2 linked regions of the Homo sapiens genome follow. The protein of the gene in region 1 purifies or fractionates together with the protein of each later gene. This does not show direct contact. Each region holds a gene or a part of one and is shown on either strand. Other genes may lie near its edges.

What was found.
Region 2: the proteins of WBP2NL (region 1) and OTUD4 purify together in Homo sapiens (affinity purification with mass spectrometry; 3 studies listed by BioGRID and IntAct, with this or other methods). This does not show direct contact.

What each region holds. Positions count from the first base shown.
Region 1 is NC_000022.11:41,993,783-42,001,801, reverse strand, and holds the start of WBP2NL (postacrosomal sheath WW domain-binding protein), read right to left. Parts: upstream 3,015-8,019; 5' UTR 2,984-3,014; coding exon 2,922-2,983; exon of another isoform or gene 2,660-2,921; coding exon of another isoform or gene 2,502-2,659; intron 1,370-2,501; exon of another isoform or gene 1,155-1,369; intron 787-1,154; exon of another isoform or gene 1-786. Other genes in the region: SEPTIN3 (neuronal-specific septin-3), read right to left, coding at 4,835-4,900, 7,088-7,181, 7,461-7,512. UniProt on the Homo sapiens protein: May play a role in meiotic resumption and pronuclear formation, mediated by a WW domain-signaling pathway during fertilization.
Region 2 is NC_000004.12:145,177,570-145,185,068, forward strand, and holds the start of OTUD4 (OTU domain-containing protein 4), read right to left. Parts: upstream 3,021-7,499; 5' UTR 2,405-3,020; coding exon 2,246-2,404; intron 2,112-2,245; exon of another isoform or gene 2,010-2,111; intron 590-2,009; exon of another isoform or gene 559-589; intron 1-558.

The DNA.
Region 1 (8,019 bases):
GACTGCATGGTCTGTATTCCCAAGGAGCACGGAGTCCTGTCCTGGTGCGGTAACCTGGCCAGTGTCATCAGATACTTCCCCCACCCAGGCTCTTAACTTCACCTTCAAAGATAAATACAAGCAGATCTTCCTGGATGGTGTGGACAAGAGATCCCAGTTTTGGCGCTACTTTGCAGGGAATCTGGCATCAGGCGGTGCCACTGGGGCCACATCCTTGTGTTTTGTGTACCCTCTTGATTTTGCCCATACTCGTGTAGCAGCTGATGTGGGCAAAGCTGGAGCTGAAAGGGAATTGCGAGGTTTCGGTGACTGCCTAGTTAAGATCTACAAATCTGACGGGATTAAGAGCCTGTACCAAGGCTTTAACGTGTCTGTGCAGGGTATTATCTACCGAGCTGCCTGCTGCCTACTTCGGTAACTATGACACTGCAAAGGGAATGCTTCCGGATCCCAAGAACACTCACATTGTCATCAGTTGGATGATGCACAGACTGTCACTGCCGTTGCTGGGTTGACTTCCTATTCATTTAACACCATTTGCTGCTACATGATGATGCAGTCAGGATGCAAAGGAACTGACATCATGTACACAGGCACATTTGACTGCTGGAGGAAGATTACTCATGATGAAGGAAGCAAAGCTGTTTTCAAGGGTGCATGGTCCAGTGTTCTCAGAGGCATGGGTGGTGCTTTTGTGCTTGTCTTGTATGATGAAACCAAGAAGTACATGTAAGTTATTTCCTAAGATTTTTCCCCCTTTGAACAGGCATGTTGTATTATATGACATATCTTGAGCATTCTTTTTTTTTGAGACGGAGTCTCCCTCTATTGCCCAGGGTGGAGTGCAGTGGCACAATCTCGGCTCACTGCAACCTCCACCTTTTGGTGGAGCAATTCTCCTGCCTCAACCTTTTGGTTCACCTTTTGGGTGATTCACCTTTTGGGTTCAAGCAATTCTCCTGCCTCAACCTCCTGAGTAGCTGGGACTACAGACATCCGCCACCACTCCCGGCTGTTTTTTTTTTTTTTGTATTTTTAGTAGAGATGGGGTTTCAACATATTGGCCAGGCTGCTCCTGAACTCCCGATCTTGTGATCCACCCACCTGGGCCTCCCAAAGTGCTGGGATTACAGGCGTGGGCCACCGCGCCCGGCTATCTTGAGCATTCTTGACAGACTCCTCGCTGTCAATTTATCAGTGGCAACTATTCACTGGTTGGAAATGGGAAGCAATAATAGTCATCTGACCAGTTTTCTCTTAAAGCCATTTCTATGATGATGATGATGATGGGACTCAATTATGTTTTTTATTTCAGTCACTCCTAATAAATAACAAATTTGGAGAAATAAAAATATCTTAAGAAAAGAAAAAAGAAAAGAAAAGAAAGGCTTCACACCATGGAATGACAAGTGCTCAAATGGCTCTCAGTAAGTGCTCACGGGGACACCACTGTCAGAGTGGTGAGCAATCATCTACCACAAAATGGAACAAAGCAGCAGAGGTACGTAGGAAGCAGGTGAGAACATACAACCTCTAAGGCCCATATAAATCTGTCAAGAAAACTTTCTGGAGGAAGGAAAGATAGAAGAAAGACCTGGATATCAGCATTTGGTAACGTCTACTTCGATCTTCCTGACAACTACATTCAAACTGACCTGAGTGTGCTGGCCCCAAGCACATCATCCAGCTTGAGTTTCAATGCTGGTTGGGAGAAAAGGAAATTGAGGGCAAGTCAGAGCCCAGAAAGGAGCGCAATTTAGAACTGCACAGCGGGGGAGACTGAGTTTGAGTGTAGGAAACGGGAAAGGGGGCGTGTGGGGTAAAGAGGTGAGCGCAGTGGAGTCAGGCCTTAGTGAACAAGTGTGCTTGAAGGTGGAGATGGGCACCCCTCTGGCTGAGTCTGCTCCAGTAGAGAGCTCAGGGGCCAGCAGCAGGCACCGCAAGGAGCAAAGCAACTGGTGTAAGCCCCACAGCTTCCTGCGACCAACAGTGCTTTGTTGTGCCCAGGCATCTGTTCAGTCCCATCTTTTATTTTAAGACAGGATCTGGCTCTGTTACCCAGGCTGGAGTGCAGTGGTACAATCTGAGCTCACTGCAGCCCAAACTCCTGGGTTCAAGCAATCCTCTTACCATCGCCTCCCAAGCAGCTGGGATTATGGGTGCACACCACCATGGCCCACTAATTTTCTACTTTTTGTAGAGATGGGGTCTCACTATGTTGCCCAGTCTTGTCTCAAACTCCTGGGCCACCTCAGCTTCCCAAACTGTTGGGATAAGAGGCATGAGCCACTGCACCTGGCCTCAATTTTTTCAATTTTGTTTTTAAAAGCAGACATCTCCCTGGTTGGAGCAAGGAGGAAACATGGCTTTAGAAAGTTTCCAGGTCCAAGGAGAAGCCCCACAACAGTTTGAGATCTTTCCAGAATGATCCACACTCGACCTCCTCATCCCTCTTACCAAAGAGCGACACCTTGTTCGTGGAAGTAGGAGGAGATACACACCCAGTACCTGTCCTCATCCAACAAAGTCGCAGGCACCCAAGGGCAGCCACGCTGCCACCGAAGGCCCCCGGCTGCTCACAACCGCCGGTCAGCTCCGGCCTCTCTTCGAAGGACACACGCGTCTCGCACCCCCTCCCCGCCCCGCCCTGAGGAGACATGCGTCTGGGCCCCGCGCCTTGAAAAGGCGCATTCCCACCCCCACCCCTCAAACGCGCGAGGCCACGCGTTCCGGCCTCCGCCACCTCCACATGCCGGAACACCAGTGAGGGGCGCGCGCTCCCAAAGGTCGGGGGCGGAGCTAAGAGCGCCGCGCCCAAAAAAGGCGGCAAAGTCCCTGACTCGCTGAGAGTTTGCGAGCCGCCATGTCTATCTCATTCGTCTCCTCTCCTCCGACAGCACGCCGTGCTTCCCCTCAGGCACCTTTCACCGTTAGGGATGAGGGCTCCGCGGCGGTTCTCGGTGTGGCTCTGATTCACCGCCATCTTGCTTCGGGCCTCCTGCCGCCCCGTAGATGGAAAGGGGCGGGACCTGCGCCGAGCTGTGGGGCGCGGTTCTGAAGGGGAGGGCGGAGATTATGACGTAAGGAGGAGGAGGAGGAGGAGCGAGACCGGGTCACGTGGTGGGGCAGTGCCCGGGGAGCGGGGCGGAGTCAGGGTAGAGGCCCCCGCCGAGAAAGGGGAGAAAGAGGCGGGCCCTGAGAATTGGCTCGAGCGCGAAGGGGTGAGTGATAGGTGAGTGGCCTCCCGACCTCACCTGCCCCCTTAGCCCCCTGCCTTTAGGTATGGACTTGGGTTGGTCCTGTCAGGAATGATCTCAGCTCACTGCACCTCCAACCTCCCATGCTCAAGCCATCTTCCCACCTCAACCTCCCATCCATTACTCACTTTGGTTATGAAACACTAGAAAATAATGACTGAGGCCCGACCTGACGCCAACTGAAGATGAACTGACCTCACAAAGTGTTTTCATCTCTAATATCTGTGGCTATTTCTTACCAAGAGAGTCTCACCCTCCACACATGGGTGAGATGACATAATGGCTGATTTGGTCAAGGAGCACAAATAAGACAGGCCAGGCAGTTACTGTTCAAACAGCAATGTTTAGTTGTACAACACATAAAGTCTAGCAACAATTACAGGACCAGTTTGAGTGTCTGTTTGCTTGTTTTCAATTGGGAAATTTAACTGTAATGTCACCGTAAGATTGGCTGGGACTGGTAACATTTAAGAAACGGGTTGTTCTTGCATCCCCTAGGCGTGGGCCTCTTGCTCCATCAGGACTTGGTTGTAGATGAATGGCCCACAAGTCACCAGCCTTTGAGCAAGTTGTGTCCAGGTGGAGACAGGAAGAGGGTGGGCAAAGGGGAATTCTATAAAGACACAGTGTGTGGGGCAGTGGCAGTCAACATTCGCAAACATTCATGCATCTGATGGGGGGCTTTGCCCTCCCTTGGGTATTTTCCATTAGCCTACAGTGACCACCTGTGGTCAGGCTAATTCATTACTCACATTAATGGGGAAGGGGGTTGGGGGTAGGAGTAGGTAGGGTAGGTGGGAAGAGATCCCTCTTATTGCTGAGTGGACAGAAGGGTGCTAGTTTTTCCTTAGCGTGTACATATTGTGGGTTTCTGGGGGTTTGTGTGTGTGTTTAGTTTTTGTTTGTTTGTTTGGACAGAAGAAAGTCAACTCCAGCAATGTCTTCTTAGGAAAACCACTCTTCCTCAGTGGCTGCGTTATGAGGTGGGGAGGATGTACAACCGCACTCTGGGACAGCCACAAGTGGTGATTTTTTAAAAAGTGATCCTAGCCCTTGCTCCCCAACATCTGTAGTGACCCACCCTCATGAATATCTTTAAGTAATGAAGGAGACACCCTTGTCCCACTTTGGGGCTCACACAGCTGATCTCAATGAATCTAGTAAGCAGAAAAATTGCTTTCTTGACCCTTTAAGGAAGCCAAGAGTAGCTCATGCAGATGAATGGGTAGGGAGCAATGCCATTGCCCTTAGAGATGGTTACAAGTAGCTGGGATGGGCTTACAAGGGCAGAAGGAGCTCTTGATGAGTTCTTTCACCCTGCAGATGGGCTAGGACCGGCTGACGCAGATGATGCAGTAGGGCTGTACTGGCAGAACCCCACTCCACTGGGAGGAGAGGAGTGGTTTGGATAAATGGAGGATGCAACTGGCCTAAAGAGGCAGCTGGCCCCTCCCACCTACTGAGGGCTGAGAGGGGCTGTGGTGGTGAGCTGGACGAGCACAGCACTAAAAAGGGCTTGGCCCTGCAGCAATAACAGCTGAGAGGAATGGAGTGAGAAGCAGCGCTTGAAATGGCCTTCATTCAGCAGTGGGGCAGGGGGTGGCTGGCACAGGTGGAAGGACAGTGCCCAGGAGGCCTTCTCCCTGCAGGGGGGTTGAGAACGGTTGAGGGTGTGGAGACCAGCAGCTGGCAGCAGACATATAAAATACCTTCTCCAGGGAGGCTCAGATCATGGTTCAGGGGTGCCAGGCACCATTCCTACTCAGCCTTTCCAACGCCCACCTCCCATGCCCATAGATCTTCCCCTGCTGGTCCAAGGTCTCCATACAGGACTGCTTCTACAGTAGCCAAGGATCCCTGTTCTGTTGAAATGTATAACCTCTGGGCTGTAGCGCTGCTGCTGTTCTGTCCTGACAGGTGCCTACCCTGTAACTTTGTGAGCAAGGGAGGATGAGGGCTGGGTTGGCAGCCTCCAGGAAAGACCGAGAGCATAGGTTGGGGTCACTGGTGACCTGATCACCGCCCCCCTTTCTCCTGGTCCATTGAATCTTGGGTCTTGAGTCTATGTTTTTTTTCCTAGCACCTGAGTGATAAAAGACTGGGATTATAAGTGCTGGGATTCATAGAGGACCAGTGAAACACCTAGGCTGAACCAGGAGATGGGACAGAAGGTTGTATGAGGTTATTGTAAACAGTTTCACTTAGTGTTTTCCCTTCCCTAAGGCTAAACTGTTTCCCTGGCCCCGAATTTCATGAATCTTACAGATTAAAGGAAAAGAGTAACTTACTTGTACAACAAGCAGGGGAAATATATGCATTAATAAATACAGGGCTTCAGGGAAAGGCAAGAAAAGCCTAAATGTATGACGGTGGGTATCATTGGGAATGTCTACAGGAGTCAGGAGGAGAGGGAATTAGGGAAAAGTAGAGAAAGACAGACATAAATATGATTAGCTTCAGCACAAAAGTGATGGGGAATAGAAAAGAGAGGTCAAGTATGTATGAAGCAAATGGAGCAACAGAGAAGCCTGCTTAGAAGGGAGAGAAGTCTGACGGAGAAAACGGAGGTGTGGTCAAAAATTTGTCTTTGAAGCCAAATTACTAAGAAAGACAAATTATGTATATTGTTTCTGATACTTCTTTAGAATTAGTTCTAGAACCTGATGTCCCAATAAAAGGTTGTCTCACATGACTAGCATGTGTGCTTCCTTTAACTGGACACTGGGAACTGCATAACTCACTGTGTTTCCCTCTTTACATTGGCTGCCTGTGAGCTCAGGGCCTGTTCAGGTGCTTGACTACAGAAACTTTCTTTCCTATTCCTTTCTTTGACCCAGATTTCTCTGGCAATCTGTTTGTACTGTCCTGTAGTTTTGTGATTTTATGTGAAAGGCAGTCTAAAGTCATTTCTGGAAGTAGACTGGGCATAAATGCTAAATATAGGAATGAACCTAAAGTAGATTCATCTAAAAGGAAGTGAGAGATGTCAGAGACACGCAGGAGAGGGAGAGAAAGCAATGTATGAGGGAAGGAGGGAAAGGGAGAAAGAAGACAAAGTCGGAAGCAGAGACAGGCAGTGGCCTGGCAGCAGAGGCCAGTTGAGTGGAGAGCAGCAGTAGGCTCTGGTGACAGGTGGTAGCTTTGTGACACTGAACACGACACAGACTGAAGGGTGGAGCTCCATTTGTAGGCACTGATGCTTTCTGCAAGAACCCAGCTCTGGCCTACTTCTCTGCCTTCTCATGGCCTTCCTTTTCCCAGGAAGCCCCAGCCTTACCCCCAGACCACCCCCAACTTACAGGAGGGTTGTCCTGAACTCCCTGCCCCCTACTCAGGTCTAGCTCCACTGCCATCTGTCCTTGGAGAATCTCTATAGCCCCAGTTTGTGTGCAGGTTCCGAGAGAAGAGTTGCCTGTGGCTCACCTGCTCCCAGCACTTTTAAATGAAACCTCCCCCAGATCTCCTGAGTGAGGCAAACAGCTTTGTTTTGGGACACAAGGAAAGGAGACAGATAATGGACAGGCATGGAGGAGCCAAACTTACAAGGGACTCTCCAGGGAGGGCAGTGAAAATACCTCACCCCTGCATGCACACACACAGGCTCTCTCGCTCTCTCTCTGTCACACACACACACACACACACACACACACACACACACACAGACAAGATGCTCCACAAATACCAGACAGGCCTGTGGGACAGAGTTGAGAGGAAGAAGGTGGTTGGTGGTGGTATTTGGGATGTGTGTGTGTGAAGTGGGTATGTGTGATGACACAGAGAAGTGGTCGTCATGGGTTACTGTCGTGGCTTTCCTCTGTGTCCACGCTCACCGGAGGGAGGCCTCCATTGTCATTGAGCCGCTTGGCCCTGTAAGTCTCATAGTGGATGTTGTGTGTCACTTCCTTGAGGTCCTGGAGGTGGGTCCTAGAGGACACAGGGTGAGAAGAAGAGGGCTGCAATTAGGGGCAGGAAGAGGAGGCGGTGACACACATCACTTCGAGGGACTGGACCCAGTGAATGGGAACCACTCCCAGGAGCTAAGGATTCTTCTACAGCACCTTCCATTTTGCAACAGGAGCTGGAACTGGGGCAGAAAGCTCTGTCAGAGAGACCTGGAGATGCAGGAGGTGAATCTGAACAGATAGACCCTGACCCCAAATAATTCAACCTGCTGTCTGGACAGCTGGAGGGGAGACATCTTACCTGATGACAAAGTCTCGAAGCAGGGCAAACTCACAGTGGTTGAGGTTTTCCACTATGAACAAAACAAAACAAAGCAAAACAGGTAGTCAGTTCATTAATACAGCAACACCCAGGAGGTGAGCTTCTGTTTGGGTCACGGAGGCATTTAGGAGAAAGCTATGGGACAGGTCATTTTTTGTAACCCTTCCAGAGATTTGCTCACTTGGGTGTACTGGATTTGATTCATTGAACAAATATTAAGCAGCTACAATGGGCACGACATCCTTCTAGACGCTGTGGCATAATAGCCAAGAGGGACTATAATTTTTACCATTTTATAGAAGAGAAAACTAATACCAAGTCTGAGAAACTGGCCAAGGCCTAAGATACACTTCCCATTCTTCAGAAGCTTATAATCCGGTTGGAAGTAACACAGAGAAAATAATAATTGAGCCATTTTAAAAAGGTCATGCACTACATGACAAATCCAATTCAACATATATTGAATACCTAGTATTTGCAAATCATTGGCCAAGCACTGTTGGAACAGAATGAGGATTAAGACATGGGGCCAGGCGCT
Region 2 (7,499 bases), on another chromosome or scaffold:
TTTTTACTTGGGACAAGATAGTGATAAATACTGGGAAAGGCTGAGACACTGTTTTAGCAAGTCCTCCAAGACTGCCCTATTTTTAGCTCCATGGCTGTGGAGCTGATTCAGGTCAGGCCTCCGGCAGGCCCAAATCCGTAAGTGTAAAAAGGAAATGGCCTATCTAAATCAGATAATTTGGAGAGAAAGACCAAAATCCTAACTCGAGTCTCCTCCCCGTCTTTAAAAACTGCCACTTAGATTATTTACTTTGATTCCTTCTTAGAAATGATGAGTATTTGTGATTTTATAGGAGAAATTGTTGGCAAAAAATATAAATTATTGGTACACATTTTAAAAGGGAAGCCTGACGCTGGTATTACTTCCTTTTTCCCACACACACACACTTTGCCTTTGGCGATGATGGCTATAACTGTAGCCTACTGAATAACTGAACTTCCCCCAAAGTTCAAGGTCTTCAGCTAAGCTCATCAGACTAAAACTGAGTCACATAACTGGGAAGGGTAGTCCCTTATGCCTAACCTAAACCCCATTACAAAATACAATAAAATGTGTTACCTGATGTAACAAAGAGTTCTTAGTGTAAACTAGCTCTTGCCCCTTTTCTACTTAAAAACAGAGATCCCACTATAATAAAAGAGGCTTCTGTATAATCAAGGCCACCGAGTATCTATGGTATGCACTACGGAAATCAGGCACACCCTTCTGCTTCAATATAAACTAGGACTCAAGATAACTCAAATCCAAGTAAGCGCCAAGCTTCCCTTACCGCCATTTATTTCTACCTCCTTGCTTACCAAACTCTTGCTAGGTCTAACAGTACGTTATAAATACGGGCTGAATTCACTTCCACCTCTTCCCTAGGCTTCTGGAGGTGCTGAGGAGTCCAAGGAAGCAGGACAGACAGAGATTCAGAAAATTCACAAATGGGGCAGACTATTTACCTACTAACAATAAGGACCGGAGGCAGTGGGTGGCTGTGAACATACCCCACAGCAACACTGAAAATGAGAAACGGACAGAGCCTGGTTTGGGGAGCTTTTGGAAGAATTTTTCAATGACAATGTCCGCAACATAAAGCAACGGTTTGTGTCCGTTAAATCAATTTCTTGTTTTAAAGAAAGATTTTACGCTACCTATGGTAAATAAATGGCTTGCCTTTCAATGTTTAAAAATGAGAACAGACTGGCCTCCACATGTTAAGTAAAACATTTACTCACAAATAGAAATTTTAAAAGTTATTTAGCATTCAAAAAAGGTGAGGGAAAAGAAAACAGAAACATCATAAAAACCCCACAGGCGGGTAGGGAGGGGTGTGCAATGGGGTGTGGGGAGCAGGTCCTAGGTCAAAGGAAAGCACATGTGAATCGTCTGAAAGACACACCAGAGCAGAAACTTTTATCCAGCTACTTCGGCAGCTATTTTTCAATATAGGATGGGTTTTGGTGACTGCACACCTACAACACACAGTGTTATATAACATGGAATAAGCTCGCTCAAAAAAAAAAATTCAGAAAAATCTTCCTGAGCAACTGTGTTAGAAAATGGTTTTGAAAAGCTCCAGTTACACGTACCCTTTCTACTACCAACATCAAAACAGGCTTTTTTAAAAAAGTCAGTTCTGTTTAGTATACCTACACAGCCCAGCAGAGCATAATAAAGGGTGGAACCTACTCAAGACAAATCCTTCAAAATATTCTATATTTGTAAAAGGCTGGTTTTCTCAAACGGCAGTTTGCCCATTTGATTCAAGTGACATGGGCGAGCTTGCCTACCCTACATTCCAAAGTCCAGCAGCAAACCAAAATATGTTCCACAAGTAAAGTTTGATCCACCACTTCTAGTAAACACTTGGTTTACTGGAGTGGGGTGAGCGTGGTGCTTCTCAAACGAAGGGAAGGAAGGTGAATGCGGAACAAAAGTAAAAAATATCATGTCGCCAGGTCCCCAGCAATAAATCAACTGTACAAGCTCCGAGCAGGCCTCACAAGTTGTCCTCAACTCATTACCTCTTCATCAGGAGAGAGACACCCCGTTAATTTGCGGGCTTTCGAGTTTCAATTTGCACCTTTCAGACGCAAAGCAGCGTCCCACTCCGGCGTTACAATGGGGCGCTGTGACGACAGCCAGGGCACGCGCAGCCCCGGCCGTGGGCGGCCCGGACAGCCCGCAGCTGCCTCCCCACCCAGACCCGCCGGGCCGTCCCCGCCTCCCCTCGAAGCCCTCCCCGCCCCCCCGCAATTACCTGCTCCGCCACGGCCCGGAACAGGCACGACCCGTCCTTGGCGACCAGTTTCCGATACAAGCCCAGTTTCCGCAGATAGGCGTCCATGGGCGTCGCGTCCTCGCGGGGCCCCGCGCCGCCCTGGTCCCCGCCGTCGGGGACGCCGACGGCAGCCTCCATGTTGCTGGTCCTGCTGCAGGCCAGGCGCGGCGAGGGCTAGCCCCACATGGCCAGGCCGCCGGCTGCTCGACGCCCCGGCCTGGGGCAGGCGGCGGCTCGGGCTGGGGCTCGGGCTCCGCGAGCGGCGGCAGGCGGCGGCGGCCCGAGGCAGCGGTCCGCGCTCTCCGGGCGCATAGGGAAGCCCTGCCTAATGCATGGCTGTCCGCACGCGGCCGCCTCCTCGGAGCGAACACGCGCCCACGACAAACGGGGGGAGCGGGATTAAGGAAAACCCCGAGAGTGAGTAGTCACTTCCCGACGGCCTCGCTGCCTGACTCAGGACCCAGGCCGGGGGTCGCCGCCCCCACAAGTTTCCTCCTCCGTACCGGTGTGAAGCGAGAAAACCCCCGCCCCTGGCGCGCACGCTGGGCCGGCTCAGGTGAAGCGGGGCCTGCGCCCCCGCGCACTCCCCACGCCGGGAGCCGAGGAAACCAAAAAGAAAGACGCGGCCTTTCGTTTCCCCACCTCGCTGGAGGGCGCCGGAGGGGCAGGGAGCGGGTGGGGGCGCCCGGGAGAGAACAGCACCTCGCAGCCCAGAATTTGTTTTCGCTTTCGGCCCGACAGCGGAGAGGACGGCGGGAGATGTAGTCTTGGCAGCCGCAGGAAGTCGGCTTGCGGCGGGCGGGGACGCGCTGGCCGGCCTACCCGGGGGAGGTGCCCGGGAGGCGCGCGGACTACAAGTCCCTACAGCGCGGGCGCGCCGCCGCCACCGCCACCGCCCCAAGCCGGCTTCGCGCTGCACTGGCGCCGCGTCCGCGAGCAGGCCGAGGGGCTCCGCCGGCCGATGTGGGGCGACCTGCGCGCGCCACCCGCCAACCCTGCCGCTGCGCCGCGGGAATCGCGCGCGCCGGGCTGGCGTGGAGTTGCCAGGGACACGGCGGCGCAGTGTCGGCCCTTTGTGTATTTCTTTCCAGAGGGCGCACCTGTCTGCTCCCTTCCCCCCGGCCTGCTCTCCTGGTGTTTCCATGGAGGTGGCTTTAACGGCTTAAGCAGAAAATAGAGCTAATTGGCTGAGGCTCCGGGAACTGGCACGGTGCGGGACGACACACTCTGTCCATAAATCAACCGTGGACTGCTGATTGCTATTAGTAGTACAGCTCACGTACTACGGCAAGATGAAGGCTTTGCCAAAGACATTTTTGTTCACCCTGTCACTGTAGCTGAGCACCCCATCACAGAGACATGTCACTGTCGGAAGACGTTAGGGTTTTTTTTTCCCCCTTAAAAAATTCATCTTGTAAATTGCTTGATAACATGCTGACTGGACTGGCCATGGCTTCCACCAGTGCTCGAGGCTTCAGCTCAACTTCCCACCCTCCGACGTTGAATGGCAGGGAATTGACAAAGTTAAATTATGCTTTAGAACCCAGAATTTATCCAGCATGCTTCTGTTGCACCAAAATTTTATTTTGCTAAGATACAACATCTGGTGTCCTTATTTAAATACATGGTTAATCATAGGAACTAATTCAGTCTTTTAGGCTATGGTGGAGGAGAGGGAGAAGAAAAGGGAGCATTACTATAGGTTTAGACATGTAGTCAAATACCTTGGAATGGGGGGCAAGGCAGGCCAGGTGGTGAGAGTCCAACGACAAAAATTTTTTAAAAACTACGTTAGACACTTTTCAGTATTTTCAGTGCAAGCAATCAGTCATGTATTCACTTTCCTTGGAGCGTCTTTGATTTCTTAATGTTTAAATATTGTATCTCAAATTATGCTGCTTTTAGAGAATACAAACGTTATCGTTACCTAAATGAAAAAATGTCCCTGCCTCAAATTTACTTGTTGTAGCGAAGAAACACTTTGAAATCAGGTTTAGAAAAGTATAGTTTCAGCTGGGCGTGGTGGCTCACGCCTGTAATCCCAGCACTTTGGGAGGCCGAGGCAGCCCGGTCACCTGAGGTCAGGAGTTCGAGACCAGCCTGACCAACATGGAGAAACCCCGTCTCTACTAAAAATACAAAATTAGTCGGGCGTGGTGGCACATGCTACTCGGGAGGCTACTCCCAGCTACTCGGGAGGCTGAGGCAGGAGAATAGCTTGAACCCAGGAGGCAGAGGTTGCGGTGAGCCGAGATCCCAACATTGCATTCCAGCCTGGGCAACAAGAGCGAAACTCCGTCTCAAAAAAAAAAAAAAAAAAACGGAAAAGAAAAATATAGCTTCAAGTCAAACCTGTTGCTTTTCTTTTTAAAATACACTTACATTGCATATACTTCTCATTCTTCTCAAAAAAAAAAAAATTCCTGAGTATTGCCACTACTTAAAACATGGATCGCCCTTGTTTTTGAGTTTAAAAGCTTGCCTTTTAAACTCAAAGAGAAACTCAAAGTAATATCTAAACTCCTGCTGAATGAATGTAGAACAACCTCACTCTAAGCTGGCTGCTTCTGGTTCCAAAATTAGAAGTGATGCACCTGTTATATCTGACCCTGGGCCTGTTTAAGGAAATCCTTTAGGTATTTTGAGACTTAATCCAAGACAGACCCTCTGTATGCCAACTTCCCAAATATAGCTCAGCGTTAAGGCAATATTAGAGGATCCTATGTCTTTAAACTGCACCAAAACTTAGAGAAACTCACTTAACTTTCAAAGGATCTTTGCTTGTTGACATTAACTTCTGAACCTTTTCAAGAAACCAAACCAGAGTTGATGAATGTTTATTCTAAGGAAGCCATTTCTGACTGTGTGAAGAACTCTAAACAGACATCATTTTAATCAAATAATACCTGAAAGATTCAATGCTTTTGAGACCTAATGAAATTATAAAATTAAACTTATGCAAAGGAGTCAACCAACTTTTTTCTTCTTGTGCAAAGTCAATGCCTTAAGTTTGTTTACTCTGACAAACTTTAGGGCTAATAATTGTACTAGATAGAATTTTTTAAATTGTTTTTAAACTTCATAGATTGATAGATTTTATGGAGTTTTGTTTTTTCCAACAATACCTAAGGTTAGGTATTGTAGTAGGCAGCCTCTAAAATGCCCCACTCCCGACCCCCACCAAGTGATTCCCACTTCCTGGTATTCACACTCATATAATCACCTCCACCTTGTAACAGGATTGGTCTGAGTGACCAATAGAATAGAGCAAAAGTAGTGGTATGTCACTTCTGAGATTAGGTTATAAGAGACATTTTTGGCATTTTGATTGGCCTCTCATACTCCCTGTCTCATGGGTCACTCATGCTGGTGGAACCTGGCTGCTATGTGTCAGATTTACAGAGAGGTTCCCCTTGTAAGAAACTGGAGCCTGCTTTCCTCCAGCAGTCATGTGAGTCAGCTTTGAAGCGAATCCTCCAGCCCAGTCAGGTTTTCAGACAACTCCAGCGTTGGCCAAAATCTTGACTACAACCTCAGGAGAAACCCTGGCCAGAACTACCCAGATAAGCTCTGAAATTCTTGACCTCAGAAACTGGGTGAGATAGTGTTTATTTTAAGCTCCTAAATTTAGTCGTAATTTGTTACATGGCAATAGATAAATAATACAGATATAATTCTTCATTATTTGTCTTTACTAGATAGAGAATGAATGCATTTTGACAATTCGTGAAAATAATCACTAGTTTAGTATCCGTGGTTGTACCAGTTCTCTGAATTCTAAAGATGAAAAGGTAAGTTATTTTACCAAAGAGTCAAAATAGTAAGTAATAGGATTTCTTTTGAATCTATGAAATCTCTTACAAAAATAGAGTAACCTAAGAATGTCTTTATTGCCACATAGCATTGTTTCATTTTCTACAAAAATTCAAGTAATGGAATCCTACTCAAAAAATGTATTTTATGAAGAAAGACCTGTTTCTTCTGGATCTTATCTGCCAGAGGCTGCTAATTGTCGTTCTCCACTTCCCATTTGATTTCCCCTGAGTTTTTGCTGGGCCCATGGGCACCCAACTTTGGGCTATATCTCCCAGCTACCTTAGAACTAAATGTGACCCTGTGATTGTGTTTAGGTCAATGGGATGTAAGCAGAATTATTTAACTTCCAGCTCATCTCCTTAAAGATGAAGCTTCTTGCCTTCTACTCTCTGTCCTACTTCCCATGAGCTGCTCTGAAAACATGGTTGAAGGCCGAGTGCGGTAGCTTACGTCTGTAATCCCAGCACTTTGGGAGGCCCAGGCGGGCGGATCAGCTGAGGTCAGGAGTTCAAGACCAGCCTGGCTAAAGTAGTGAAACCCCATCTCTATGAAAAATACAAAATTAGCCAGGCTTGGTGGCGGGCACCTGTAATCCCAGCTACTGTGGAGGCTGAGGCAGGAGAATCACTTGGACCTGGGAGCCGAGATCGCTCAACTGCACTCCAGCCTGGGCAACAGAGTGAGACTCCATCTCAGAAAAAAAAAAAAAAAAATGGTTGAAACTAGTTAGCCAGCTTTGCCGGGCACAGTGGCTCACGCCTGTAATCCCAGCACTTTGGGAGGCCGAGGCAGGCGGATCACGAGGTCTGGAGTTTGAGACCAGCCTGACCAACATGGTGAAATCCTGGCTCTACTAAAAATTCAAAAATTAGCTGGTTGTGGTGGCACACGCCTGTAATCCCGGCTACTCGGGAGGCTGAGGCAGAAGAATCGCTGGAAACCGAGAGGCGGAGGTTGCAGCGAGCCAAGATCCGGCCATTGCACTTCAGCCTGGGTGGGCAACAGAGGGAGATTCCGTCTCAAAAAAAAAAAACAAAAAACGAAACTAGTTACCCAGCTTTGATCATGCAAAGACAACACCGTAAGATAACAGAGCAATGAGATGGAGGACTGAGCTCCTGAATACTTCATAGCCTGTGATCCTTGAACCAGTCCTCTCCAGACTGTGAGAAATAAACTTATTTTACCAACCGTTGCTGCTGTTGTTATTATAGCTACTTAGTCTATGTATTCTAGCACATTTCCCCCTCAAATATTAAATAAGTGATAACATTTGGGACAAATTAAATTTATTTATAAGAGTTTCTGAGTTGAGCAGAACATAATTCTTTTTTTTTTTCTTTTGAGACAGAGTCTGTCACCCAGGCTGGAGTGCAGTGGCACCATCACGGCTCACCTCCCCAGGCTCAGGTGATCT